2 separate regions of the Homo sapiens genome follow, and region 2 is linked to region 1. The links come from fine-mapping of genetic effects on gene expression. A gene starts in region 1. The other region holds a variant in brackets. All regions are shown on one strand. Distances are between the middles of the regions. Region 1 holds the start of ASB15 (ankyrin repeat and SOCS box containing 15). Region 2 has its middle 26 kb from the start of HYAL4.

The links. PIP is the estimated chance that this variant, and not a neighbour inherited with it, causes the effect.
Region 2: its variant is the best candidate, but not a certain one, in a credible set for the expression of ASB15 in skeletal muscle (GTEx, PIP 0.81).

The regions. Positions count from the first base shown.
Region 1 is chr7:123,590,702-123,606,676 of GRCh38, forward strand. It overlaps ASB15 (ankyrin repeat and SOCS box containing 15), which reads left to right and starts at 11,120. Exons shown (of 12, transcript NM_001290258.2): 1 at 11,120-11,213; 2 at 13,331-13,511. It also overlaps a transcript of NDUFA5 not described here. RefSeq lists an enhancer at 4,074-4,368.
Region 2 is chr7:123,811,257-123,827,231 of GRCh38, forward strand. It overlaps a transcript of HYAL4 not described here and the pseudogene HYAL6P. Among named protein-coding and RNA genes, the nearest start is that of HYAL4, 26 kb to the right of the region's middle. The variant G/T (reference allele first, on the strand shown) is at 7,054.

The sequences.
Region 1 (15,975 bases):
CCTCATAGTATAGTTCGATGTCAGGTAGCGTGATGCCTCCAACTTTGTTCTATTTGCTTAGGATTGTCTTGGCTATGCGGGCTCCTTTTTGGTTCCATATGAACTTTAAAGTAGTTTTTTCCAATTCTGTGAACAAAGGCAGTGGTAGCTTGATGGGGAGGGCATTGAATCTATAAATTACCTTGGGCAGTATGGCCATTTTCACGATACTGATTCTTCCTATCGATGAGTATGGAATGTTCTTCCATTTGTTTGTGTCTTCTTTTATTTTATTGAGCAGTGGTTTGTAGTTCTCCTTGAAGAGGTCCTTCACGTCCCCTGTAAGGTGGATTCCTAGGTATTTTATTCTCTTTGTAGTAATTGTAAATGGGAGTTCACTCATAATTTGGCTCTCTGTTTGTCTGTTCTTGCTGTATAGGAATGCTTGTGATTTTTGCAAATTGATTTTGTATCCTGAGACTTTGCTGAAGTTGCTTATCAGCTTAAGGAGATTTTGGGCTGAGACAATGGGATTTTCTAAATATAAAATCATGTCATCTGCAAATACAGACAATTTGACTTCCTCTTTTCCTGATTGAATACCCTATATTTCTTTATCTTGCCTGATTGCCCTGGCCAGAACTTCCAATACTATGTTGAATAGGAGTGGTGAGAGAGGTCATCCTTGTCTTGTGCCAGTTTTCAAAAGGAATGCTTCCAGTTTTTGCCCACTTAGTAACATATTGGCTGTGGGTTTGTCATAAATAGCTCTTATTATTTTGAAACACATTCCATCAACATCTAGTTTATTGAGAGTTTTAACATGAAAGGCTGTTGAAGTTTGTCGAAGGCCTTTTCTGCACATATTGAGATAATCATGTGGTTTTTGTTGTTGGTTCTGTTTATGTGATGGATTACATTTATTGATTTGTGTATAATGAACCAGACTTGCATCCCAGGGATGAAGCCAACTTGATCGTGGTGGATATGCTTTTTGACGTGTTGCTGGATTCGGTTTGCCAGTGTTTTACTGAGGATTTTCACATCGATGTTCATCAGGGATATTGGCCTAAAATTATCTTTTTATATAGTGTCTCTGCCAGGCTTTGGTATCAGGATGATGCTGACCTCATAAAATGAGTTAGGGAAGATTACCTCTTTTTCTGTTGATTGAAATAGTTTCAGAAGGAATGGTACCAGCTTTTCTTTGTACCTCTGGTAGAATTTGGCTGTGAATCCTTCTGGCCCCAGACTTTTTTTTGTTGGTAGGCTATTAATTAATGCCTCAATTTCAGGACCTGTTATTGGTCTATTCAGAGATTCAACTTTTTCCTGGTTTAGTCTTGGGAGGGTGTATGTGTCCAGGAATTTATCCATTTCTTCTAGATATTTTAGTTTATTTCTGTAGAGGTGTTTATAGTATTCTGATAGTAGTTTGTATTTCTGTGGGATCAGTGGTGATATCCCCTTTATCATTTTTTATTGCATCTATTTGATTCTTATCTCTTTTCTTCTTTATTAGTCTTGCTAGCTGTCTATCTATTTTGTTGATCTTTTCAAAAAACCACCTCTTGGATTCATTGATTTTTTGTGTCTCTGTCTCATTCAGTTCTGCTCCGATCTTAGTTATTTCTTGTCTTCTGCTAGCTTTTGAATTTGTTTCTCTTGCTTCTCTAGTTCTTTTAATTGTGATGTTAGGGTGATTATTTTAGATCTTTCCTGCTTTCTCTTGTGGGCATTTAGTGCTATAAATTTCCCTCCACACACTGCTTTAAATGTATCCCAGAGATTCTGGTACGTTGTGTCTTTGTTCTCATTGATTTCAAAGAACATCTTCATTTCTGCCTTCATTTTGTTATGTACCCAGTAGTCACTCAGGAGCAGGTTGTTCAGTTTCCATGCAGTTGTGCAGTTTGGAGTGAGTTTCTTAATCCTTATTTCTAATTTGATTGCACTGTGGTCTGAGAGACCGTTTGTTGCGATTTCTGTTCTTTTACATTTGCTGAGGAGTGTTTTACTTCCAATTTTTTGGTCAATTTCGGAATAAGTGCGATGTGGTGCTGAGAAGAATGTATATTCTGTTGATTTGGGGTGGAGAGTTCTGTAGATGTGCATTACGTCTGAATTCAAGTCCTGGATATCCTTGTTAATTTTCTGTCTCATTGATCTGTCCAATATTGACAGTGCGGTATTAAAGTCTTCCATTATTATTGTGTGGGAGTCTAAGTCTCTTTGTAGTTCTCTAAGGACTTATTTTATGAATCTCGGTGCTCCTGTATTGGGTGCATATATATTTAGGATAGTTAGTTCTTCCTGTTGAATTGATCCCTTTACCATTATGTAATGGTTTTCTTTGTCTCTTTTGATCTTTGTTGGTTTAAAGTTTGTTTTATCAGAGACCAGGATTGCAGCCCCTGCTTTTTTTTTACTTTCCATTTGTTTGGTAGATCTTACTCCAACCCTTTATTTTGAGCCTATGTGTGTCTTTGCATGTGAGATGGGTCTCCTGAATATAGCACACAGATGGGTCTTGACTTTTTATCCAATTTGCCAGTCTGTGTCTTGTAATTGGGGCATTTAGCCTGTTTACATTTAAGGTTAATATTGTTATGTGTGAGTTTGATCCTGCCATTATAATGTTAGCTGGTTATTTTGCCCGTTAATTGATGCAGTTTCTTCACAGCCTCGATGGTCTTTATAATTTGGCATGTTTTTGCAGTGGCTGGTACCCGTTGTTCCTTTCCATGTTTAGTGCTTCCTTCAGGAGCTCTTGTAAGGCAGGCCTGGTGTGACAAAATCTCTCAGCATTTACTTGTCTATAAAGGATTTTATTTCTCCTTCACTTACAAAGCTTAGTTTGGCTGGATATGAAATTCTGGGTTGAAAATTCTTTTTTTTTCTTTAAGAATGTTGAATACTTGGCCCCCACTCTCTTCTGGCTTGTAGGGTTTCTGCCAAGAGATCCACTGTTAAGTCTGATGGGCTTCTCTTTGTGGGTAACCTGACCTTTCTCTCTGGCTGCCCTTAACATTTTTTCCTTCATTTCAACCTTGGTGAATCTGAACACTTATGTGTCTTGGGGTTGCTCTTCTCGAGGAATAGCTTTGTGGCGTTCTCTGTATTTCCTGAATTTGAAAGTTGGCCTGCCTTGCTAGGTTGGGGAAGTTCTCCTGGATAATAGCCTGAAGAGTGTTTTCTAACTTGGTTCAATTCTCCCCGTCACTTTCAGGTACACCAATCAAACATAGATTTGGTCTTTTCACATAGTCCCATATTTCTTGGAGGCTTTGTTCATTTCTTTTCACTCTTTTTTCTCTAATCTTGTCTTCTCGCTTTATTTCACTAATTTGATCATCAATCACGATATCCCTTCTTCTGCTTGATCAAATCAGCTACTGAAGCTTGTGTATGCTTCATGCAGTTCTCGTACTGTGGTTTTCAGCTCCATCAGGTCATTTAAGCTCTTCTCTACACTGCTTATTCTAGTTTGCCATTCCTCTAACCTTTTTTCAAGGTTTTTAGCTTCCTTGCAATGGGTTAGAACATGCTTCTTTAGCTCAGAGAAGTTTGTTATTACCGACTTCTGAGGCCTACTTCTGTCAACTCGTCAAACTCATTCTCTGTCCAGTTTTGTTCCCTTGCTGGCAAGGAGTTGTGTTCCTTTGGAGGAGAAGAGGCATTCTGCTTTTTGGAATTTTCAGCCTTTCTGCTCTGGTTTCTCCCCATCTTTGTGGTTTCATTTGCCTTTGGTCTTTGTTGTTGGTGACCTACGTATGGGGTTTTGGTGTGGATGTCCTTTTTGTTGATGTTGATGCTATTCCTTTCTGTTTGTTAGTTTTCCTTCTAACAGACAGGCCCCTCAGCTGCAAGTCTGTTGGAGTTTGCTGGAGGTCCACTCCAGACCCTGTTTGCCTAGGTATCACCAGCAGAAGCTGCAGAACAGCAAATATTGCTGCCTGATCCATCCTCTGGAAGCTTCGTCCCAGAGGGTCACCTGCCTGTATGAGGTGTCTGTCAGCCCCTACTGGGAGGAGTCTCCCTGTCAGGCTACACGGGGGTCAGGGACCCACTTAAGGAGGCAGTCTGTCCATTATTGGATCTCAAATGCCATGCTGGGAGAACCACTGCTCTCTTCAGAGCTGTCAGGCAGGGACGTTTAAGCCTGCAGAAGCTGTCTGCTGCCTTTTGTTCAGATAGGCCCTGCCCCCAGAGGTGGAATCAAGAGAGGCAGTAGGCCTTGCTGAGCAGCCGTGTGCTCCACCCAGTTCGAGCTTCCCTGCCGCTTTGTTTACACTGTGAGCATAAAACCGCCTACTCAAGCCTCAGCAATGGCAGATGCCCCTCCACCCGCCAAGCTCCAGCATCCCAGGTCGATCTCAGACTGCTGCACTAGCAGCAAGCAAGGCTCCGTGGACGTGGAACTCGCTGAGCCAGGCATGGGAGGCCTAAATGACACTTATCCTAAATGACACTTGCCCTAAATGACACTGATCACTGTTTAAAAATAAGCCAGATTATTAGTCCCTAACTTAAAGCCATTCAATTCATGTGCTTGTAATAAAACCCAAGCTTTTATCCATGGCCCACCTCCCATCCCTACCATCCCTTGATGATCTTCACTTTCATTTGTTCTCTGGTTGATCCCTTCAACATGGCACATCCTTTTTGCCTCATGACAAAAAGTAAAATTAAACTTACATTTCATCTTCCTAAAAGTTTGTCCTCTATACCTTTCTGTGTCGGGTTATTCTTTGTGAAAGTTCTCAGCACAGATGTGTTCCCTCTCAGACTATCCTTTCTGAAGGAAGCCTCCCCACTTCAATGACCAACTATCGTCATGCTTATTTTCTTCACAGAGTTTACCACAATTCATTTTCTTACTTATGTAACATTCACCTCACCTACTTAAATACAAACTTTTCAGTGACAGGAACTTGATATAGCTCATTGGCATACCTAGTGCACAGCATAATACCTGGCATTGCAGATGGTCAATATTTGTTAAATACTGCACTGGTGAGAATCCCACATTCATCTACTTCTCTGGATCCTACCATTCTTGACTTTGTAAATGCTCTTTAGCTAGTGAGCCAATTCACTATCATTTCCCACCCAAAGCCCCCTTGAAAGTATTTGTCTACACTGTGGGTGAATGGGCCATATCTTCAAGACTGGAAAATTACCCAGACATTCCAAGCTGCATAAAAACAGCTTAACCAAACCTCAAAACTCAATCTGATTTAATACTTTTTATATTAATGTATACATAAAGGAAATGTAAAATTTTGCTTTATTTGAATGGTAATTACATTTTAAATCTTGAAATCAAGCCATAACTAAGCCAAATATGTAGTAAATACTTTGGGAATATTCAGAATATTTTTTCTCAGTACTTATACTGTTCTACTAAAGATAAATCTAAAACTAGCATAAATCATCACACTTTTTCTAGTTTCCCAAAGGAATTACTAAATTTACCTCTTATATTGGAAAAAAAAATTGGGGGGAGGCAAATCATGAGACCATTAAAAATTGTTTTAACATACACAAAGTGGTGGCTCCAATTTGAAATATAAAGACCTGAATCCACAAGAGGCAAGAGTGACATCTTTTAATGGTAGAAAGGATGGATTTACATTGAAATATTTAGGCCAGGTGCAGTGGCTCATACCTGTGATCCCAACACTTTGAAGGGTGGGTAGATTGCTCGAACTCAGGAGTTTGAAACCAGCCTGGACAACAAGGTCAAACCCCATCTCTACAAAAGAAATAAAAAAAAAAATTAGCCAGATGTGGTGGTGCATGCCTGTGGTCCCAGCTGCTCAGGAGGCTGATGCGAGATGATTACTTGAGCCTGGGAGGCGGAGGTTGCTGTGAACCAAGATCGTACCAGTGCACTCCAGGCTAAGTGACAGAGGGAGACCCTGTCTCAAAATAATAATAGTAATAATAAGGAAAAAATAAAGAAAGAGAAAAAGAAAAATTTGAATTTATTGTGCTAAGTTTTCTTCGTTAAATTTATATAATTTCTTCTATAGTATGTACTGTTAAAATGCTTTTTACAATCAAATATTAATTAAATGTCATTACGCATTAGCAACTTCAATTAGAAATTGAAACAAAACACAAATGCACATGAAAAGATCAATTATTTTCAGAGAGAATAGAGTACAATACTGAATTTTCAATAATTCAAAATTTACTTTGGTTGCCAATATAGAGCTTTATTTTAAGTCCTGATTATAATTAGGCTTGGTTTATATTAAATAAGGTACTAAGAATAGTGACAATCTCTTTGCCTTAGCACTACTGAGATATGTAAGAAGTCAGAATTACAAGAGACTGGAAGAAAAAGGAAGGTTCTTAAACAATAATCCCTCTTACACACGGTTTTGCTTGTTACCCTAGTCAAAAAATATTAAACGAAAAATCCTAGCAATAAACAATTCATAAGTTTAAATTGCATGCCCTTCTGAGTAGTGTGATGAAATTTTGGGTCACCCTGCTCTGTTCTGCTTAGAACATAAATCACCCCTTTGTTCAGCATATTCACTCTGCATATGTCACCAGCCTATCTGAACATTTAGTGGTTTTCCTGATTGTCAGATCAATCATGATGGTATCACAGTGTTTGTGTTCAAGGAACCTTTATTTTATTTAATGATGGCTGCAAGAATATTGATGCTAGTATGTTGTTATAATTGTTCTTCATTATTAGTATTGTTGTTAATTGCTTACTGTGCTTTATTTATAAATTAAACGTTATCATAAGTATCTATGTATAGGAAAAAAACCAGCATACATAGAGTTCTGTATTATTTGTGTTTCCAGGCACTCAGCACTGTGAGTCTTAAAGCATATCCTCCCCTGGCCAGACGTGGTGGCTCACGCCTGTAATCCCAGCACTTTGGGAGGCCAAGGTGGGCAGATCACTTGAGGTCAGGAGTTCGAGACCAGCTTGGCCAACATGGTGAAACCCCGTATCTACTAAAAATACAAAAATTAGAAGACGTGGTGGCACACACCTGTAATCCTAGCTACGCGGGAGGCTGAGGCAGGAGAATTGCTTGTACACAGGAGGCAGAGGTTGCAGTGAGCTGAGATCGCACCACTGCACTCCAGCCTGGGCAACAGAGCAAGACTTCATCTGAAAAAAAAATAATCCTTCACAGATATGGGGAAACTACTCTAGGTTGATGATCCATTAATGTAAAACCATTTTCTCTTTTCAAACTTCGTGTGTGTGTGTGTGTGTGTGTGTGTGTGTGTGTGTGTGTGTGTCTTTGTTCTCTGACCTTCTCCTCCACAGCCTTCTTAGGTCTCATCTCTCTACTTGTTTGTCTCTATACAATGGTAAGCTTTTGGGACTAGAACCACATGTCCCACCCATCATGACACTCCCAGAAGTGCCTAGCCTCACATTATGCATATACTAAAATGTGTGTCTGTATATATAGAATAGAAAACCAAATGCAATGGTTTCCCTCATGTCCATTTTATGTCCCTGGAAGTATAATATACTTTTATATCTAGACTATAAGTCCTGTATCTGTATAGGGATTATTAGTTTTTCAAAGAACTTTCATAATTATGCCCTTATTTTGATAACAATGATATGAAATAACAAGAGCAGTGTTATTACACAGTAGGAAACTGAAGTATAAACCTTTAGATATCTCTAAATGATTTGTCTTAATTCACAAAAACTGGCAGAACTTAGACTAAGATACATATTCTCTCCTTTTAATCCAAGTTTGTTTCTCTTAGATACACTTGAAATGCCTTTCACAATAGTGAAAATTAAGTACTTTGTTCGCAAAAGGAAAAACAAGAAAAAAAAAGATCAACCAGCTTTTAAAAAATTTATTGTGACTCAACCTTAATTGACTTAAACTTTGGTTAAACAGAAATAACTGCGAACCCATTTGAACAAGTCATCAGTGTTCAACAAAATATTCAACACATATTTGATGAGTGCCAAAAACTTTACTAGACAAAGTGAACTTTGAAACCCCTAACTGAAACCCCATACAGGATCTTCCTCACTGTTTGTTTGTCATTAATTTAGTATAACTACCTATAGTGCTACCTTACTAAAAAATACTATTTCCGTCACTTGCCTTTGCTTGGCTACATGGCAACTAAATGACCAGAGTAATGTCAACAACGTGGATTCTTCCAGGGGCCTGTGACATCAGTGCTGTTGGAGGAGTTCAGTGCTAATAGATTTGGCTCATGTTTTCAGTTGTTTGATTTTCAGTCTGGAAAAACAGCGTACAGCATAGCAAAAATAAACAATTACCAAGGTTCTGGGAAGCATACTAGAAATAAAGGATTTATTTTATGTTTTTATATTCTTTTCTACTGTTTTATGCCTAACCAAAATAAAATGTGCATTTCTTAAATCACTGACCCCAAGGCCAAAATAATGGTCAAGTACAAAAAAGAAAGAAGGAGAAAAAGGAGAAAGCCTGAAATATACCAAAGTGAAAATGAAGCCAAGAGAGATATACATGGGTATTGCTTACTAAACAACAAAATAAGAGGATAACTTAAAAACAACAACAAAAAAGAATACCAAAAAAACACACAAAACAAACAAAAAATAATAGGATAACTTAAAGTAGGACTCCCCAAGGTGTTTGAACAACACCATTTTTTGTAGAAGGCAAAGATAAAGCTCCAGTTCTGACAAAGCCTCATAAAGAATGGGCTGGATCAGAAAGGACTTAATAAGTGGCATTGTAGAGGGTAGATGGGATTGTATGACTAATCATAGCAAGAGCTGTTTTTTAAAATCCAGGCCTGCAAGTGCCACACTCTTTTTCAGGAAGAAAGAATACCTGTGGGCAAAGTGAGGCTGTAGCAGTGGCAGGTGCCTAAAATATGAAGGCCAAGCTGCCACATTGCTCCCTGGAAATTCACAAACAATGCTACCTAAATTTCTTATTCCCAAAATAGAAATAGGTGGGTCCAAGGACAGTTCTTCTAACACCGTGCTTCAACTATTTTAACCTAAGACTCTTCATCTTTCATATCAGTTGCTATAATTATCATTTTGAAACAGTACATGCATTTCTTGCTATATATAGATAGAAGGAATGCGTATTTGGATGTCAGTGTCATTTTGTATACCTTCCTTGGAACAACAGTAGTATTCAACTAGTCCTTCACTGTTAAATCTGACCCCTCCCTGAAACTCATTCTCACCAGACAAAACTAGAGGCACTGTTTGAAAAGCTAGGACTCATTTTGTTTCCCCTTTGAGAAAACCCACAGGAAAAGCCAGCTTTCATAGAGGCAAATGTGGAAGCGATTACTAGCATTATGAATAGATCATTCTTTCAAATATATGAGTTACTCAAAGTATGTCTTATTGTGTGTGCATAGATGACTAACTACTTGAGGAATAGGCCTCATTAAAATGGTGGTGCCATGGTCATTGTATCATCATCATCATCATCACTCCCATACTACAGATAAATAATCTCAAAAATGTAAATAATGCATCTACAGAAACAGTAAGTGGTAAAGCAAGACGTGTTCACAGGACTATGTCTTCAGTAACAGGCTCTCATTTATTTTACCACATGATCTTATTTTGGCTTTTCTATCATTATATGCATTATTTTAAATGTTGTATGGTATAGGTAGATCTATAACAACTATTATATAAACGGATAAAACAGGCATACCATCATTAGTTTAAGAGCAGAAAAGTCACTGCAATGTGTCAAGCCACACTTTAAAGTGTTAGGTGCACATTTTCCCACACATTTGCATTATACTCTAAAGCTTTATATGAATTTCTAATATTGTAAGTAAAAAAAAGTTGTATAAAATTAAAGTGTTTCACAATGCTGATTGCTTTTCACAAGAATTCTTCATTGAAAAATTCCAAATTAGATTAATAATGATAAAATGTAGACAATGTATGCAATGATCTAACTTTTACCCTTGACTATTGCAATACACAGTTAATAGTGGTTTAAACATAAAATACTTCTCAGTTTGCTTTGAAGATGACTGAAACGCACCTTCTTTTATCACAGTTAAAGAGGAGTTAGGACCTCTCATTTCACATTTACGGTTTCTCAATTTTTGAAATAAAACTGGCAAATTCACTACAATCCACGTATTTATATTCATTAACACTGAGTACAAAGAAAATGTCAGAGATGAGACGAAAAACAAAAGCGTGTAGTGCTCCCAGTAGCTTAAGAAGTAGAGAGTTTCAGGAAAAAGGGAAGAATCACTGGCAGCAAATCCAATGAGGGTTTGTAAAATAAGAAATGAAAATGAATATAAAATATGAAATGAGTTTCTAATGTAAGTCAGAAAGAGGTCACTGAGACCTGCAAAACGAGTTGTTTTAGTAGGGGGGTGTAGGGGATAGAGGCCAGATGGCTTTGTGAGTGCCGATGGTGGCCTGAGTTAATCCAAGGATAGCTGTGTCAAAACAAATTTAAGGCAGACTATTTTCATTGGAAAATCAGTAAGACAATAAACTTAATTGGTTTTTTAAAAGAAAACAACCTTCCTCAATTAAAAATCCCAATTTTTTTGCTTGTTTTATTAATACATTTGCTACTCATTTTTTTAGACTATATATGCTCAATAACTTGACCTAAAAATTCTTGATCAGATTAGATGTCACTGACTGCCCTATCTCCGTCTGTATATCAGACTAGCAATTATTAAACAAAAATCAAAGACAGCAAATTAGTATGACAAGAAGATTGTATTTAATGAAATTTGACCTGAATCTGAAAGATGGAGAAAGAAAAATAGTGTGTATTAAAATATGTCAAAAGTGGATTAGGCTCTGACAACACAAAGACTTACAGATTTGTCTCTTGAACAAATACCTTTAAATTGTGCGTTAATTCCAAGTGGTTTGGTTTTGTTCCATCAGTAGCAACACTCCCTGCAGCTGAATTGGCAGGTCCTTTGTTTTCATAAGAGTTCTTTGAACCAATCAGGACAGAGATAATCTTATTATACCTCTGTAGGCTTGCGTTTCTTTTGATGAGAGTCTAGAGAAGTCATGGGTAATACTTTACCGTGTGCCAGAGACCGCTTATGTTTCAGTTGTACAAGGTCAGGTCTTAATTTAACCACCAACTGGATACTTAATTTTAGATACACAGAAGCACACATTGGCTCCAGGGCACTTCCTCTGATTTAGGAAGGCAAGTCCCTGGATAAGAATGACAAGATGATCATTCCAAAAGGTGAGATTATGAAATATTTGATCTGTACCTCACCAACTAGCTTATTGAATAGTTCATTATTGGTAATATTTTAAACAGATTGAAATACAAATTATAGTAGCTACTCATTACTTTCTTTCCACTTGATCACCTACGGGCTTACCTGTTTAGAGCCTTTTTAATTAGAGACTAAAGCTAGAATTTGTTTGCTTATAGAATATCAACTCAATTGCATAATTACTAAGCATAAAAAATTGTATCATGAGAAAAACAGATTAAGAATGAGTATCCTTATAGAACATGTCAATATATTTACTATAGAATCCCAGAAGGGTCTCAGCTCACCTCTTGGTTTCTAATAAAAAAAATTAAATAATTTTTGTGAATAAATAAAATAAATCTTTTAAGGCTTTTTCATCACTTGTTGAAAAAGATGAATGCTTTCTGCCCAGATTGAAACATTTCTTTAAATTAGTTAGATTTTTTAAAAAATAAACCGAATAGAATTGGAAATTTACTCCTGCAAATTATATCACAAAATCTAAAGGTTGGAAAGTCCTTAAAATTTATCTGATATCGTCACTCATATTGTTCTTAAATGCACAGTTAACTTCTAAGGAGCTTTCTATATCTAAAATGATTTGACTTCCACGAAGTAAAGCAGTGATGTGGACAAGAAAAATCTTATCACTGCTTTGTGCTGAGATTATTAATTTATTGTGATAAAAATTATAATTTTACACTTCAGTTATTTTATGAGAATATTTTATCTTCAAATAGAAATTTGCCTACAAGTTTTATATTTCCCCTGGAGTTGTTCGATGAATTTGTTAGGTAGTTGCTTAAACTTTTTGAGAAAACTTTTTCTCAGGTTTATGAATTTTTAGGTTACAAAATAAGACCCTCTTTTCATTAATTCATTCAAAGTAGCTGAGTCATAGTTAGAGTATACTGGTTAAGCGTGTGTGGCCTCCATTGTCAGATGACTGGGCTATATCCCACTCTCCACTGCCCACTAGATATGTGGGCTTAGGTAAGTTACCTAATGACTCTGTGCTTCAGTTTTCTCATCTGTAAAGTGGGGGAGAATTATGTCATAGACGTTAAGTGACATCCATTTAATGCACTTAGTGTAATCCCTATCACAGGTAAACACTCAATAGATATTAGTTATAATAATTATTAAACTCAATATAAAAATACTTATTAAAGACTTGCTATGCTATGTGCTTTACTGTGTGCTAAACCTTAAAGAGAAATTGGTATTATTTCTGGAGAAAAATCTAAAATACATTATTTAAAGGCAGAAAACTCTCTGAGGGCATGGATCCCATATATATGTGTCTAGCCCTGTGCCTGGAACACAACAGACGTTGAATGTATATTTTTGCATGGACAAATAGGATAGTCTGAACATCCTTAGGAAAAAAATAATCACTAAGAATTGGTGGGTTAATTCTTTTCCTTTGTCTTTTTGATTAGCAGAGCAAAGGAATGTAGTATCATAGATAACTGTGCATTTGTATTACAACAAGGTATTTGACAATATTCCTTGATGATGGTCTTATTATCAAAAAGGAGACATTAATACTAGGTGGTGGTGTCTTTAAGAGGGTTTGTAGCTGGATAAACACCTTTTCTGGGAGGGTGCAAAATAATGGATCAATGTCAACATAGAGGCCTCTGTCCTTTGCCAATTTCTTTTCAACATTTATCTTTATCAGTGGAGCTTAAGGACATATAGAAGGCATGCTTATTAAGTCAGCAAATAAAACAATACTTGGAGAGATAGAAAATGCATTCAATTTTAGCAGAAGGAAATAAAGGCCAAATTGAAAAAATATAAAATGTAATAGGAATAAATAGAGTCCAATAGGGTCCTGCATACAATTGCACAGAAAACAACGTGGGGAAAACATACGACTTGTAGATCTTTGGGATACTGGGGTCTAAATCAAGTCTGTAACATAATAGCCTAAATATTTATCTGAACTTGGACTAAATTAACAGATGTATAGTGTTTGAGAAAAGGGAACACTTAAACTTGTGTTGGTCTGACTGTAGCTGTTGTGTTGCCTTCAGAGCCTGTGGTTCAGTGTCACTTTTAGAAAGAAATGGATAAACAAATGTGTTTCCAGGAAAGCAGTCAAGACAGTGCAGGAGGTGAGGCCATCTTATAGGAAGAGCAGTTGTCCAGCCTCTGGAAGAAAAAGCTCAGTGGAGATCTGACAGCCTTCCTGGGGGATATTAACAGGGCTCCTGTGTTGCAGAGGAACACTACTTTCTCAGTGTAGCTCTGAGAAAGAGAACCAGAAAAAGGTAAGAGAAGTAGAAACATTATCTTCAGATAATGTTTTGAAGAGTGGATTCAAGTTCACTGGTTTTCCTAATTGTGAAATCTGGCTAGGCCGGGTGCCATAGCTCATGCCTATAATCCCAGCATTTTGGGAGGCCGATGGGGGAGAATCACCTGAGGTCAGGAGTTCAAGACCAGCCTGACCAACGTGGTGAAACCCTGTCTCTAATAAAAATACAAAAATTAGCCCAGCATAGTGGTGGGCTCCTGTAATCCCAGCTACTCGGGAGGCTGGGGCAGGAGAATCACTTGAACCTGGGAGGTGGATGTTGCAGTGAGCCGAGATCATGCCATTGGACTCCAGCTTGGTTGACAGAAGGAGACTCTGTCTAAAAAAAAAAAAAATGCTGGCTAAAGAAGAAGCACCGTGTGAGGAGATAGCAAACTCCCTGACACTTTGATGTTCAAACTGAGGCTACCAATTACTTATTGGGCATGTTGTAAATAAAATTTACAGGTGGGGCTACCTGACAGTCTTTAACTCTGAAAATTGGTGATTCTAGGGAAAAGGAGGGAGAAGAAAATAAAATGGGGGTGTCAGGGTCAATATTCAAGGGTAAGGAATAGAACTAAAACTTTCAAAAAGTACTAGAATCCTACTTTCCCATTCCACAGGAGTTCAATCACAGAATAATAACAGGTAATGTTTACTGACTACTTGTGACACGTCAGACACAGTTAACCAGGCAGCTAATGCAGGCAGGTCGGCATTTGAACAAAGGTTCAACCGTTATATTCAACTGCCTCCAACAGAAAGAAATCAATGGCCTGTACATGATTTCAAAACAAGATATGAAAAAATGCAGTGACTCATTATTATTTGAATCAATTTTGAAGGGAAAAAAATTTGACTTGAGCACCAGACAGGATTGTTTGTCATGTTGAACAAAATACATTATGCCAGGAATGAATATTTTTGGAGAGAATATATGCATATATATTTGTATATGAATATTTATGTGTATATGCATAAGAATAATACTTTTTAAAATGCTCAACATCCCTAATCATTAGAGAAATGCAAATCAAAACCACAATGAGATACCATCTCACACACCAGTCAGAATGGCTACTACTAAAAAGTCAAAAAATAACAGATGCTGGCGAGGTTATGGAGAAAAGGGAATGCTTATACAATGCTGGTGGGAATGTAACTTAGTTCGGCCACTGTGGAAAACAGTTTGGTGATTTCTCAAAGAACTTAAAGCAGAATTACCATTCAATCCAGTAATCGCATTTTTGGATATACACCCAAAGGAATATAAATCACCGTACCATAAAGATACATGCACACGTACGTTCACTGCAGTATTGTTCACAACAGCAAAAACATGGAATCAACCTAAATGCACAATGACAGTAGACTGGATAAAGATAATGTTGTACGTATACACCATAGAATACTAGCCAGCCACAAAAAAGAATGAGATTGTGTCCTTTGCAGCAACATGGATGGAGCTGTAGGGTCATTATCCTAAGCAAATTAACACCGGAACAGAAAACCAAATACCCCATGTTCTCACTTACAAGTAGGAACTAAACTGTGAGTACATACGGACACAAAGAAGGGAACAACAGACGCCAAGACCTACCTGAGGGTCGAAAGTGGGAGGAGGGCAAGGATAGAAAAACTACCTATGAGGTACTATGCCTATTACCTGCATGATAAAATACTCTGTACACCAAACCCTTGCAATATACAATTTACCTATATAACAAACGTTAAGATAAAACTTAAAATGAAAGTTAAAAAAAATAATACTTTTTAAAAGTCTGGAGATATTATTTTTATTGTTACTATAGGTAATCAATGTAGTCAAAACGTTTTTTACTCACCCTACAACTCAATTGCACAAACCAAAAGTAGCTTTTTTATTGTCTGTAACTGGCCTCACCTTTCTCAGGAGCCACCACTCACTAATTAATGGAAAATAAACTATTGATTTCATGCAGACAGACACAATAACTTAGGTAATGAAGCCACTGCTTGGACGATTCAGATAAATGAATTGCTCTTTCAAATTTCTGCTCCTTCCCACGCCAAGAAACTCTCTTCACCAAGTTCTACCTGCTTTCCTGTACATTTGGGCAATCTTCTCTCTTCTCGAGGTCACCAAGGTTCCTGGCCTGCTCAGTCCTAAGAGGTAGATGCTAAGCTAATTTTCCTGAGAGGGCTTTGTAAGCTTTGCCTCTGTAAAGTCCATCTTAGTTCACTTTTCTTGTTGTTACTGGTGGTGAAAACTCTTAAAATCTACACCCTTAGCAAATTTCAAGTATACAATACAATATTGTTAACTACAGTTACATTGTTGTACATTAGATTTCCAGAATTTACTCATCCTGCTTAACTGAAATTTGTACCCCTTGGCCAGCACCTCCTAGCCCCAGGCAACCAACATTCTACTCTTTTTTCTATGACTTCAACTT
Region 2 (15,975 bases), 220 kb after region 1:
AAATTGCCAAACTGTCTTGCAAAATAGCTGTAGCATTTTGCATTCCAATTGGCAATGTATGAGAGTTTCCTGTTGCTACACATCCTCACCAACATTTGGAGTTGGAATTGTTCTGGATTTGGGCCATTCATTAATAGGCATGTAGTGGTGTCTCATTGCTGTTTTAATTTGCAATTCTCTAAGGACATATAATGTTGAGCATCTTTTCATATCTGTATATCTTCTTTGATGAGATGTCTGTTCAAGCCTTTTGCTCATTTTTAAATCTGTTGTTCATTTTCTTGTTGTTGAAATTTAAGAGATTTTGTATATTTTAGATAACACTTCTTTGTTAGATATGTCTTTTGCAAATATTTTCTCTTAGTCTGTGGCTTGTCTTCTCATTTTCTTAACAGTGTCTTTCACAGATGAGATGTTTTTAATGAAATCCAGTTTGTCAACTATTTCTTTCATGGATTGTGCCTTTAGTATTGTATCTAAAAAGTCATCTGCTTGTCTAAGGTAATCTAAATTTTCTCCTATATTATTTTCTAGGAGTTTTATAGTTTTATATTTTACATCTAAGTATTTATACCTTTTTTGTTGTTGTTGTTGTTGTTGTCGGAGAGGGAGTCTCACTCTGTCACCCAGGCTGGAGTGCGGTGGCACAATCTCAGCTCACTGCAACCTCCATCTACCAGGTTCAAGTGATTCTCCTGCCTCAGCCTCCTGAGTAGCTGTGATTACAGGTGCACACCACCACACGTGGCTAATTTTTGTATTTTTAGTAGAGATGGGGTTTCACCATGTTGGCCAGGCTGGTCTCAAACTCCTGACCTCGTGATCTGCCTGCCTCGGCCTCCCAAAGTGCTGGGAATACAGGTGTGAGCCACTGCGTCTGGCTGGTATCTATACCTTTTTACAATGTGTGGAATTATGTTGCTTTCCCCACTGCTTCACTAGACCTGGCTACTTGCCTGAAACATATCAGATTTGTTGAACAAAAATTCAAGTGTATGTGTGTATATATGTATGCATGTATTAGTATATATATTTTATAAGTGGAAAAATGTAGATCTAGTTTTATATTTTGAATAATAAAAATAGCTAGAAAAAATAAAATCTCAGCAGCATGTAGAAAGAATTCATTATATTTAAAAATGCATACCATTATAATGCATATTTTTGTTACTGTAGTAGAAGTCTGTTATAAAATGTAGACTAGGGACCAAAATAATGCCAAAATAATTTTTCCATAGGCTAGCTAGAAAAATAGATGATTGTGTATCATTTATATACATGGAAAACATAATGAAAATCTCCTAGAAGAGGAAATTTGTAACAGTATTTTACTAAAGTACAATATTTTGTATTTTTAGGCCCTTTGGCTCTAAAAAATTTATTGTGATATGACATTTTAAAAAGGTGTTTTTTGTTCCCAAGGGTGTCAGTTTATTAGGCATATATATACGCAATGTGCAGTCATGACCAGAGGGAGGTAAAGAATAATATTTATGGAGAGTAGATATTCTTTCATTTTCCCTGAACAACAAATAAAGAATGAAGAAGATTTGCCTTTATATTTTTGTGGGGGAGTGGGAGTCAAATTAAGATCCCATGATTAGAGAAGAGTGATGGGAGAAAAACCATCTCTGATAGCTTAGAGATTCATCTGGTGCTATAATACACACTCCACATGAAGGCAATTGTCTCAATAATATCCAATTTATTTAAAAGAGTAAATTATCGTTCACATTTGTTAATTTAAAAATTCAGTGTACAGAGAGCATACGACTTGAACTCAAGTTTCTTTACAAACTTGGGGTGCTATGTTGTGAGAGTTAGCGTACAATTTTGGTTGGTGTCTTTCCTGAATTTAGTACGTTAAATAAAGACACCAAGAACTACATGAGAAACAATGTATGATTCTTAAAAAGAAACTGAGTTTAATTATATCAGAGAAAAATCTGTTTAAAATAAATTCCTTTATTTAAAAAAATCCATACGATAAGATAATTTTGATATGTAACTGAAACCATATTGCTTTCAGGATGAGATCTTGTTGGCTGGAATGCATCAACTATTAGATAGTCCTTATATTCTGGGAAGATTCTTTGGCAGTTTTCGTCCCAACAGACTAGTTAAAGGGGCCTAAAGAGACAAGTTTTATTTAGGGTTTAACTGCTGAATATACAATCCAGTTTCTTTATAGGAAAACCACTGGAGTTAAAGAACTAATAGGATTTTAGGCTTGTTTATATGCCTAAGAAGATGATAGCACCAAAATCCATAATCAACACAGGGTAATTAACATTTCTACTTGTTTTTTATTTCAGCCTATGCTAGTTCCAAGGGTAACTGCTCTCTGTTTTAAAAATAAACATTTGAAGCCAGTGCATTTCAAATTGCATGTAAAGTATTACTTACTGTTAGTACAGTTAGTTATTTCTTTTTGTTCTATTTAATATTAGTTAAAATCCCAATATTTGTTAATTTTCAAGTGGGCATGTTCTTGGAGTCACTTTGTAAGTAATCAATAAGGAGATATGACAATCCATTCAGACTTCTTTTCTAGTTCCTCTTAGAGCCAGTGAAGGCTTGTCAGTACAAGAAGGTTTGGGTTAGCGTATTCAGAATCATAGGAAATTAAAACCAGAATGGCTAGCAGCTAGAGTTTGCATAGCTGACAAATGTGTGAAACTTTTTATAGTTTTTATTGAGTATATATTTTTTTCACATTTCACTATAAATTGGCATAGATATTAATAAGCCTCAAAGATATTTTAAAATATTTGGTCTATTCATTGTATACCACAAAACTTAAGAGACATTTGACTCCATTATGTATGATATTTTGCTTATTATTTTCAAGGAGACTGCTGTAATGCTGAAAACCTCAAGCCATGTGTAACCCATGGGTGGCGTGGTTAGGAGTGCTACCACTCTTTATCCTATTAACTCAGGCAGCCCTCAAACCAGCAATGCCTCCGGTGATCAAGAGCCAGCCTTTCAACATTTTCTGGGCAGCCCCAACAATGTATTGTATGCCTTCCTTCAACGTGGATATAAATCTTCAAGTATTTAACATTATATCAAATCCTTTAGAGACTCAGAGTGGGTCAAAAATTGCCATATTTTATCCAAATGAATTAGGGTATTACCCTTACTTATCTCAAGATGGAAAATCCTTTAATGGAGGAATACCGCAGAATGTGAGCCTTTCTGAACACCTTAGGAAAACTGCTGATGACATTGGAGAAGGTGTCCCTTGGTGGAGATCAGAAGAACTTGTTGTTATTGACTGGGAAAGTTGGAAACCCCAATGGGATAGAAATCAGGGCAGCAGAATAATATATAAAAACCACTCTTTAGCCTTCACTAGAAACCATCATCCTTATTGGTCAGAAATGAAAGTGGAAACAGTTGCCCGAGAGGAATTTGAAAATGCTGGAAAAAATTTCATGAACATTACTCTCACATTGGCTTTAGAAATGAGACCAAAATGTTTATGGGGCTTTTATCTCTATCCAGACTGCTACAATTATGATTACAGAATAAATCCAGAGACGTACACAGGTAATTGTCCAAATTGTGGCTGTGGGAAAAAAGCGCAGCACTTTATCCTTCAATACATTTGGATAAAATACTGAAGTCAAGCTTAAATGCTTTGAAATTTGTTCACTATCGAGTTAGAGAAGCCATGAGGGTTGCTGAAATGGCTAGACATGACTATGTTTTGCCAGTTTTTATTTTTTCCAGACCATTTTATTTGCATAGTACTGAAGCTCTGTCACAGGTAAGGAAAAGCACAGTCACTCACATTTAAAAAAAATGGAAATTTGGTAGAATAACTATATAAAGCCTATACATAAATGTTTTAGGATATTTATTTTCCCTTAGCAATACAATGCTGTTCTCTTATTAAACATGTATATTTCTTCAAATGTCAACTCAATTCTGAAAAATGTCACTGACAATTAGATGTACACTTAACACTTTTGGATAATGATTCTTACCAGCTTAGCATTCACAGGAGTTTCCTACAGAACAGAGGTTAAACTTGATTTAAATAATGTAACAGACAGATTAATTTTAACCAGAGAGAAATTTTAGAACTAACTTCTTAATATGAAAAGGTAACAGCAATTTTCCAAATCAAAAACGTGCAACATAGAGCTTAGGGTAAATTATTAACCAACTACATTTCTCATTATATTGCATTTGTATGTTTTAATTAGCTAGGCTAACTAAAAAAATTACATAGGTTCTCTTGATTTTGTCTTTAACAGTCAACAATGCAATCTAGTGGTTATTGTCAAGGCATTAAAACTGGTTTATATAAGGAGACAGATATTGTCTTTAGACTGAACACAAAGCTGGAAGCCTACAGATGTGGAGATGAGCTTGTTTAGAAGATAATAAGTTTGAAGACATGGCAAGTGTCCAAACTTTAACTAGATTGTCACATAGGACATTCTTGTAAGGATTCAATCATTGGATAGGTGGCTAGATAAGAAAATCCTCAAATCTCCATCTATACCTGAGAGCCAACAATACTTTATGCCAGTACCCAACACAGAAGCAGAGCTGTTGTATGGACAATACACAGCTCACTTAGACCACTTAGGTTTGAGATAAGGCCATTTAAAAGCAGTAGCAATTCTTCCTAAATATTTCAGAATAAAATCCAATTATTAATTAGACTTGACATATTCATCTTTGCAGGATTACTCAGTATTATTCAGAATGGGCTATTCATTCAATAAGTTTAGAAGGAAAAGAATCATAGCATTATGACAAAAATTTGGAAGAATCTCATGGGCACTAACCCATCTCCTACCCAAATAAAAACCCTTTCTTATACTTTAACACTTTTTGATGGGGGCACTTCTTATATTAGAAGGGAAACTGCCATTTGGGGGAAATATTAATTCCTAGAAAGTTTTTAAGTATATTTAATCTACTTTGCCTCTTAATAACTTCATACCACTAGTTCTAATTCTACCTTCTGGTGCAACATAGAATACAGCAAATCCTTCTTTCAAAAGCCAGTTGTCCAGGTATTTTAGGATATCAGGCCTGCCTACCAAAGTCTTCTTGCTAAGGTATTCCTCAAGTGATGCCAGCTTTCTCAAATCATTTTACTATCTTAAATCCTTTTCAGAAAAATAACCTGGGTTATATTTATTCATTGAGAAATTCTTGAGTGCCTACCTTGTGTCAGGAATTACATGTTATTAGTAATAACAGTAGAAAATAATAATAATTCATGCAGTCAAAGAGTTCACCTTGAGAGAAAATGGGAGAATGAGATGAGCCACATTTTCATAAAAGCCTTGTTCATTGCTTTCCTATTTTTTGTACTATTGGACTTTTTAATCTTTTTTATTTTTAATTTTTGTGGGTACATTAGACTTTTAAAGTAAATTATATGCTAAGTATCACCTCTGAGCTCTACTTGAGAAATCAATAGACTGCATTCTCTACTCACCAAAATATATAGAATCACCTGAGCATTATATTGAATTGTTTTAATTGCCTTCCATGTATCATATATCAAAAAACAGTATGGGTTTTTCTCACCTTTGGTCTAAGTAACATAACTTTCCAACGCATTTTTTTTTAAACCAGTCCTGTTTGGTATTTGCTTTCAGGAGTGTCTCAATTAAAATAAGCGACTACATTTAGGTTTAAGGAATGTGATATTAGTCAGTATAATGGAAGAATGATTTCCTTTCTTGTTGTATTACTTAGACAAATTGCAGAACATAAATGCCAGTATTGCTGAAACCTTCCTATAACGCAGGAAAGCTTACAGTGGCGTGACAATTTACTCATTGCAGTCTGTGAGCACTCCACCTTTGCACTGGATCTCTGACTCTCCATACCTTGTAGGGGAGAAAAGAATGCAGATTGCACCATTGGTCATCCCCTTTATCTCCCATCTCTCCCTATTTCCTACTTCTTTGCTCTTGGCCTATATACATTAGCATAACATCCTCGGTTTCTTATCTTTATGAACTGTAATCTATATAGTCACCCAATTTGAAAGTCACTTGGCTGCCTCCCTTTTCCTCTTTCCATTATCGGATGGGTAACTAAAACTTATCCATCTTTATTTCCAAATAACTCTTCAATCTATTCCCTCTGCTTTACAAGGATTTACATTGCCTTTGTTGAGGCATCATCATTTCTCACCGAACAATTTCTATCACCTCCTAATTGGTGTTCCTGCCTGTACTATCTTGACCTTCCCCTCCAATGCATTCTTCTTCTTTTTTTTTTTTTTTTTTGAGATGGAGTCTCGTTCTGTCACCCAGGCTGGAGTGCAGTGGTATGATCTTGGCTCACTGCAACCTCCGTCTCCTGGGTTCAAGTGATTCTCCCACCTCAGCCTCCTGAGTAGTTGGGATTACAGGCGTGTGCCACCACGCCGGCTAATTTTTGTATTTTTAGTAGAGACAGGGTTTCACCATTTTGGTCAGGCTGGTCTCGAACTCCTGACCTCAGGTGATCCACCCGCCTCAGCCTCCCAAAGTGCTGGGATTACCCATCTTCCAATGCATTCTTTATATGCAAAAAGAAAAAAAAAATCAAAGTTGCAAATTTGTGTCTTTCCAGCACTAAATATTTAACATTTATTTATGTATTTATTTATTTGAGATGGAGTCTCGCCCTGTCACCCAAGCTGGAGTTTAGTGACAGGATCTCGGCTCACTGCAACCTCCGCCTCCTGAATTCAAGAGACTCTCCTGCCTCAGCCTCCCGAGTAGCTGGGATTACAGGCAGGCACCACCATGCCTGGCTATTTTTGTATTTTTAGTAGAGATAGGGTTTCACCATGTTGGCCAGGCTGGTCTCGAACTACTCACCTTGAGTGATCTGTCTGCCTCGGGCTCCCAAATTGCTGAGATTACAGGCGTGAGCCACTGCACCTGACCAGTTGTCTTAACACTTTAAAACAGCATTTTTCTCTTTGTATTTGGATTCTGTTTATACATAGAAATTCATATGTTTTTACTTTCCAAATTCTGTGTGCTTTACCACAAGGAAGTACTGGGAGTTCTCTGGATG[G/T]ACTGTGATTTTGCCTGGATCTAAGTCTCTGCTCTTATTCTTCCTGTGGATATAAAACTCTGCTCTCTCTAGACTGTCTTGTGAATTCATACTCATTCTCAAGAGTCTACTGATTCTCATTCCCAAGAGTCATATGAAATTTAACGTGTTAAGGAAGCCTTCCCAGACTCTTCCATGAAGTATTAAGCACTTCTAATTTATATATGTTTTGTGAGTGCTACTAATATAAAAATTATTATGTTATAGTCACTTGTTTATATGTCTGTCTCAACCATTAGACTAAAAAGCATTCCTTCAAGAAAAGGAATTGAAATCTATTTCATTTTTATATTCTCAGTGTTTAGAATATTGCCTGGAACATTGTAAATATTTCTCAAATAAATCTAAGAATCCAAGGCAGTATCACCTTTTCCAATTCTGGTATGGTCTTTTGTTTTATTTTTTGTATGATAGCTTTATTTAAAAGAAATGCCTTTTTTTCTGTGTATTAAAATTTATATTTTAATTGACATATACAATTGTATGTATTTATCATATACAACATAATGTTTTGAGGTACATATACATTGCAGAATGGTTAAATCTAGCTAATTAACAAATTCATGACCTCACAGTTATTTTTATTTTAAGAACATTTAATATCCACTCTCTCAGCATTTTTCAAGAATACAATATGTTGTCATTACCTATAGACACCATGCTATACAATAGATCTCTTGAACTTATTCCTCCTATCTAATTGTAATTATGTATTCTTTAACCAACATCTCCTCAATCCCCTCTCCCTCCTAACCACCTCAGCCTCGGGTAATCACCATTCTACTATCTACTTCCATGAGATTAACTTTTTCAGATTCTATCTGAGTGAGATCACGCAGTATTTACCTTGTGGTACAGTCCTTTGTTTTGGAAACAAAGATATCATTATTAACGTGTTCCTTACCACAGTTGAGGGATTGAGTCTTATTATTGCATTATCACTGACAAAATTTGACTTGGTGGAAACTACTCCTGATACCTCTCTTTTCTAGGAGGACTTAGTGCATGCAATTGGCGAAAGTGCAGCATTGGGGGCAGCAGGAGTAATATTGTGGGGAGGATATGAATATTCTGCTTCAAAGGTAAGCAATGATTTCTCTGTCAGCAACTTGAATATACTTTTGAGATTGGTTTAAAAACATTTTTTTTTTCGCATCAGAGTCAAATGGTTGCTGATTATCTGCTTACTTGACCTTAGTGAAATTCAAAAAGTACAGGGTCTAACATTGAGCACCTACTCCATACCAGCCATTGTGGTTAGTAGAAGGGTAGAAAGAGCACAATCATTCTAATCAGACAGCTAAGTGAGAAACTGATGTTTATGTCCTAGGGGTGTAATTTTGAGCATGTTAGTTAACATTTCTGAGTCTCAGCTTCTCCATCTAAAAAATTAGACTAAAATAAAACCTCCTCTGCAGGATTTTGGTAGATTAAATGGCATAATATATATGTGACAAACAAAAAGTAATAAATTTTAAAAATGAATAATTATTTCATTTGCACTGAGGGCAGATTCTCCAAAAATGATAAATAATTCTTTTTTTTTCTTTTTTTTTTTTTTGTGAGGCAGTCTCACTCTGTCACCAGACTGGAGTGCAGTGGCGCAATCTTGGCACACTGCAACCTCTGCCTCCCAGGTACAAGTGATTCTCGTGACTCAGCCTCCTGACTAGCTGAGACTACAGGCATGTGCCACCATGTCTGACTTATTTTTTTGTATTTTTAGTAGAGACAGGGTTTCGTTATGTTGGCCAGGCTGGTCTCAAACTCCTGGCCTTAAGCTATCTGCCCGCCTCAGCCTCCTAAAGTGCTGGGATTACAGGCATGAGCCACTGTACCTGGCCCAAAAATGATTCTTTACTTTGCTGATTACCTATTATAGAAATGCATGTGGGAGAAAAATCTATTTGTATATAAAGGTTTATTAACAATCTACTCTGTTCTGGCTGGGCACGGTGGCTCACGCCTGTAATCCCTGTAATCCCAGCACTTTGGGAGGCCGAGGCAGGTGGATCACTTGTGGTCAGGAGTTCGAGACCAGCCTGACCAACATGGAGAAACCCCGTCTCTACTAAAAATACAAAATTAGCTGGATGTGGTGGTGCACACCTGTAATCCCAGCTACTCAGGAGGCTGAGGCAGGAGAGTCGCTTGAACCTGGGATGCAGAGTTGGCGGTGAGTCAAGATTGTGCCATTGTGCCCCAGCTTGGGCAACAAGAGTGAAACTCCATCTCAAAAAAAAAAAAAAAATTACCAATCCCCCTTTTATTATAAGAACACTTAATATGAAATCTACCCTCTTAAATTTTGGAGTGCTTAATATATTGTTAACCATAGACACTATGTTGTACAGGAGATCTCTCGAACTTGTTTATCTAGCGTAACTAAACTAGCATATCTCGGACTTATTTATCTAGCATAACTGAAACGTTACAACCTTTAAATAACAATTTCTCATTTCTCCCACCCTCAGCCCCTTACAACTATTACTGTGTTCTTTGCTTCTACGAGTTTGGCTATTTTAGATACCTCGTAAGTAGAATCATGTAGCATTTGTCCTTCTGTGACTGCCTTAGTTCACACAGAATAATGTCCCCCAGGTTCATCTGGTTGTCATAAATGACATTATTTCCTTCTTTTAAAAGGCTGACTAATATTTCATTGTATGTATATACCGAATTATCCTTATTCATTTATCTGTCAACAGACACTTGGATTGTTTCCATTTCTTGGCTATTGTGAATAGTGCTGCAATATACATGGGAATGCAGACACCTCTTTGAGATTGCAATTTCACTTCTTTTATATATCCAGAAGTATATATGCATTTATACTGAATCATATAGTAGTTATTATAGTTAGAATTTTTTGAGGAATCTTCCATACTGTTTTCCATAGCTCTTGTACCATTTAACATTCCCATCAACAGGGTATGGGGGTTCCCATTTCTCTACAACTTCAACACTTGTTATCTTTTATTTTTTAAATAATACCCATCCTAACAGGTGTGAGGTGATAGCTCATTGTTTTGATTTACATTTCCCCAATAATTATGATTTTGAGCGTCTTTTCATATACCTGTTAGCTCTTTGTATGTCTTCTTTGGAGAAATGTTTGTTCAAGTCCTTTGCTTAATCTTTGATTGGGTTATATATATTTTTTGCTGAGTCATAGAAGTTCATTATATATTTTGGATATTGACCTCTATCAGACATATGGTTTGGAAATATTTCTACTATTCTGTAGGTTATCTCTTCATACTGCTGTTTCTTTTGCTGTGCAACAGCTTTTCAGTTTGATGCATCCCATTTGTCCATGTTTCTTTTTGTTGCCTGTCCTTTTGGTGTCATGTCTAAGGAATAATTTCCAAGACCAGTGTCAAGAAGCATTCTCCCTATGTTTTCTTCTAGGAGTTTTACAGTATTCGGTCTAATGTTAAATAAGTCTTTAGTCCAGTTTGAATTGACTTTTGTGTGTGGTATAAGATAGGGATCCAATTTCATTTCTGGGCCTACAGATATCTAGTTTTCCCAACTCCATCTCTTGAAGAGACTATCCTTTCTCTGTTGTGTTCTTGGCACTCTTGTCAAACATCAGTTGATCATATATGTGTAGGTTTACTTCTGGACTCTCTATTCTGTTCCTGTGACTTGTATATCTTCCTTTATACCAGAAACATAGTGTTTTAATTATTGTAGAATTGTAATATATATTTAAATGAGGAAATATGAAGCCTCCAGTTTTGTTCTTCTTTCTCAAGGTTACTTTGGCTGTTCTGGGCCTTTTGTGGTTCCATATAAAGTTTAGTTTTTTGTTTTCTATTTCTGTAAAAAATGCCATTGGGATTTTGATGGGGATAGCATCAAGCCTGCAGATCACTTTGGATAGTATGGACATTTTAACAATATTAAGTTTTTCTATCCATAAACATAGGTTATCTTTTATTTATGTCTCTTTTAACACCTTTTATCAATATTATGTAGTTTTTGATGTACAAGTCTTTCACTTTTTTGGTTAAGTTTATTCCTAAGTATTTTATTATTTTTAATGGTATTGTAAATGGAATTGTTTTCTTAGTTTCCTTTTCAGATGGCTCACTATTAATAGATGGAAATTCAACTAATTTTTGTATGTTGATTTTGTATCCTGCAACCTTACTGAATTTCATTATTACTTATGACATTTTTTGTAGTTTTTAGGGTTTTCTATATATAGAACTATATCATCTGCAGCAAGAATAATTTTAAATTCAGATTCATTTTTATTTCTTGCCTAATTGCTCTAGCTAGGACTTCTAGTACTACGTTGAATAGAAGTGGTCAGAGTTGGCTGGATGAGATGGCTCATGCCTATAATCCCAGTACTTTGAGAAGCTGAGGGATGAAGGTTGCTTGAGGCCAGGAGTTCAAACCCAGCCTTGGCAACATAATGTGACCCCATCTCTACAAAAGGTAAAAAAGAAAAAACTAGCCAGGTGTGTTGGTGTGTGCTTGTAGTCCTAGCTTCTCAGGAGGCTACAGCAGGAGGATGACTTGAACCCAGGAGTTCAAAGCTGTAGTGAGCTATGACTGTGCTACTGCACTTCAGCCTGGGTGACAGACTCCATCTGTTAAAGAAAAATAATTAAATTAAAATGAATAAAAGAGAAGTGATTAGAGTGAGTATCCTTGTGTTATTTCTGATGTTAGAGAAAAAGCTTTCAACTTTTCATCATTGACTATGATGTTAGCTATGGGCTTGTCATATGTGGCCTTTGTATGTTATGGCACATTCTTTCTACACCTATTGTTTTAAGAGTTTTTACTGTGAAGGGGTGTTAAATTTTTAAAAAGTGCTTTTTCTGCTTCTAGTAAGATGATCATAGGATTTTTATTTTTCATTCTGTTTATGTGGTATATCACATTTATTGATTTGTGTGTGTTGAATCATCCTTGCATCCCAGGAATAAATCCTACTTGATCATGGTGTATGATACTTTTAATGTGCTATTGAATTTGGGTTGCTATTATTTTGTTGAGGATTTTTGCATCCAGTTTCATCAGGGATATTGGCTGATAATTTTCTTTTCTTACAGCATCTTTGCCTTGCTTTGGTATCAGGGTAATGCTGGCATCATAAAGTGAGTTTGAAAGTGTTTCCTTTGCTTCAATATTTTTGAAGAGTTAGAGAGAGATTAGCATTATTGTTTTAATGTTTGGCACAATTCACTGGTGAAGTTTTCAGGTCCAGGGCTCTTCTTTGTTGGGAATTTTTGGATTAATGATTCAGTCTCCATGTTCGTTATTGGTCTATTCAGATATTCTATTTGTTTTTTCATTTTTAGTTCTAGAAGTTATATATACACACACATATATATTTATATATATACACATATATATTTTATATATATATATATACACACACACACACACATATATTTATATATATATGAATTTATTCATTTCTTCTAGGTTATCCCGAGTTACCTAGATAGTACATACAAAATAACTCTATTAATTTTCACAAAATAACTACTACTTTTCTAAAGCTGCCTTTGAGTATGGTCATCCATCCCACTGCTTAAGTGAAAATTCTGAGACCACAGCTCTTCCTCACTTCCAGGCATTAACAAACAGTCTCAGTTTCAGGAATTAAAATGTCTAGTCTTATAAAATATAAAAATAGCAATCTCTTTTCATTCAGTGTGACACAAGTTAGGATGTCAGCATTGTTAAGAACAGGAGTCCTGTGATGAGACTGCTTGAGTTTCAATGCTCACTTTTTGTCACCTACTAGCTGTGTGACCTTGATCAAGTAATTGACTTTTCAATTTCTTTATCTATACAATGAAAGAAATAATAGTATCTCTCCTATAGGACTTTTATGAGAATTACACTATTGATATATATAAAGCACTTAAAACTGTACATGGCAGATGGCAAGTGCCATGTAAGTGTTGATTATTACTTCTTACCTCTCTTCCCCACACACCAGGCTTGGATCTGAGGTGTGGAGAAGAGGGGTATGGTGAGTTCTTTTGTTCAGCTAATTCAAAGATGGGTTTAGAAGATGGGGATGAGGATGAGAAAAGGTGGCAATATAATTTTTTTAAGTTTAATGACATTAGTAATTATCTTTCCTGCTGAAAGCCTTTTGATACGGCTGCCATTTAGTGGCTGACTTTTTCTTACATGAAGCGCTGCTGCAATTTGGTTACAGGAAACCCCCTTCTCCCCACAACTCTCACCACCACCTCCTTCACCCCCGCACATGACACCATTCTCTGCTTTGAACAATGCAGGCTTTAGCTACCACCTTGAAACTTCCCCTTTACTTCTTCCCCAGAAGTACCTCCTACATTCCCTTTGCCCTTGGACTTTTCAGGAAGATGCATGCCTGGCTACCTGTGTAAAATCCACTTGGATCATGAAAATACTCCTGTACCCTTGTTCTGTTAAATTACATGAAGGCAGGCCACTCCCACTGCTGTCATCTCTCCTCAGTGTCTTTATTCCAAGAACCTGTAGCAGAGCTTTGCACATAATAATGTGTGCTGAATAAATATTTGCAGAGTGAATAAATAAACATGTCAGCCTCCAAGCTCCCAGTAGTTCCCGTGTGGTTCTAGGACAGTGCTCTCTACTTCAAATTCCTTTCACAGAACATTCCTTCTGCCCTGATAATTTCTAGCCATTTATATATGCTGGAGATGGGTAAATGTCTCTAACTCCTTAGTTGTCAACCCCACTGTCTTCAGCTTTGGGTTTCAGGTGAAATCTCTCTTTCTCTCTCTCTCTCTATATATATATCTATGATAAATCTATATATATAAAATGTATTTAGATTTTTATAAATTATATGTAAAGTTCCTGTCTTTTTTTTAACCACGTTACATATAAATGGTGTAACAGGTTTCCCCTAATTGAAGCATGTATTTGGGATGGTCTGATTAAATCCAAACTGTCACATAGACAAAATTCTCTTTTAGATTCCTGATGTAAATCTTTAAATACAGATCATCTTTCCTTAGAGCAGCTGAAATAGCCATGTAATCACATCCAAGAGGCTGACAAATCCAACTCTAGAAGCAATAATTAAGGTTGATATAATCAAAACTTTCATAGTAAAATAGAAGAGGAGGTAGTGAGATGGAGAGACAATGGGTTATAAAGAATCTGGCTTTTCCCAAAGAGAGATCTGGCCTTTGTCCTTGGCTTCTGGGTGGTAATCTGGGGATATCTTTGTTTAGGGTGGATATAGTCACACCTAATAGTTTTATGATAAGGGCTGACTATGCCCCAAGAATCAACCATGTCACAAAGGGTGAAACAATGGGTAGATGCTTCAAGCTATGCATTATCAATGAGTTGGAGCTTGAGTTGAACCACTTAGTCAATCAATCAATCATGTCTCTTCCTTTTTTGATTAGTTAGGCTTGTCAGATATAAATGTTTGATGGTTTTCTTTTTTTGAAGACCTATTCTTTATCAATTCAATTTTCTAATTCATAAATTTATACTTTTAACTTTATTATTTCTTTTCATGAGATTGCTTTCTAAAAAATTATTTTTCTAATTTCTTGAATGCTTGTTAAATTTATTATTTTATTCCTCTATGTTAAATAATCAAAACTATTGCAATAAAAAGTGTTACTTTTGCATCTAGTATTAGCATGCTTTAAAATGTTAGGACATTTTTTCCAGATCCAAAGACAGAGTAGAAGATAAACTTCCACAAAAAGGTGCACATTTCTTTGGATAAAGATTTAAAATTAGAAGCTAATTTTATATATTTAGCTAATGCTCCAGATACACAGAATGTCAAGAAAGTTTGCCATAATGGGTAGAATGTCACTTGCTGGGTTCTGGGAAATTGGTGACCAGCTTCTGATAATGAGATAGAGATAGGAAATGCACTGATTCAATGCAGCAGGTAGCAACTAAGGTGGAGCTTCTAAGAGTGGAAAAATGACTGAGAAGATGCAGAGAGTTGGGGGAACAGGAAGCATGGAAAAAAGCGTAAATGGAAAGCAAGCCACTCAGTACCCCATCAGCTACCAGTACACAGTGCTGTATAGCTGAATGGGAGTCCAGGTGAAAGCCAATGCCAAAATGCCTTGTTTCTGGTTTGATAATTGGATTGCCCGGTAAACAAAAGCACTTATGACTAGGCATTGACATTGAAAATTACTTTGGATGTATTAACACATTTTAACATGTAGTATTCCAGTTGCTTTTATTTTTCTAATTAATTTGAAATTGTAATTTTAAAAATTTCCTTTTAGACCAAATTGCTACTTGGGAGGATATTTTTAATCTGTAAAAAACTAGGATTTTTGTGTCTACTTCTTTTATTATTGATTCCTATTTTACTTAATTATAGAGAGAAATATATGTATGCTCACTGTATTTAGAACAGATTGTGGAGACTAGTTGGGAGGCAATCATCCAGGCGAGAGCTAGTAGTGATCTGAAACAGAATGGTAGCAAGGGTTGAATTCTGGATATATTTCAAAGGTAGACTGAAAAGGACTTGCTGATGGATTAACTGTAAGGGGAAAAAGGAGTGATGAATAACTCCAAGATTTTGCTCCTGAGGCACTGGAAAGAGGGAGTTGGCTTATGCTGAGATGGGGAAGTCTGGGAAGAGGGTCAGATTATGTTGGAGTATGTTAAGTTTGAAATGCTTGTACAACATCCAGGTAGAGATGTCAAGTAAATAGGTGGGTATATAATCAATTCAGGGATAAGGTCTGGGTGGTACACATTTGGGGGTTGTATTTAAACTAATGAGATGGGGTGAGCTTATCCAGTGAAATAGTACAGCTATAGAAGAGAAGAGGTCTAAGATTTAAGCCAGGGGCACTTCAGTGTTAAATGTAGGAAAGATGAACAGGAGCCAGT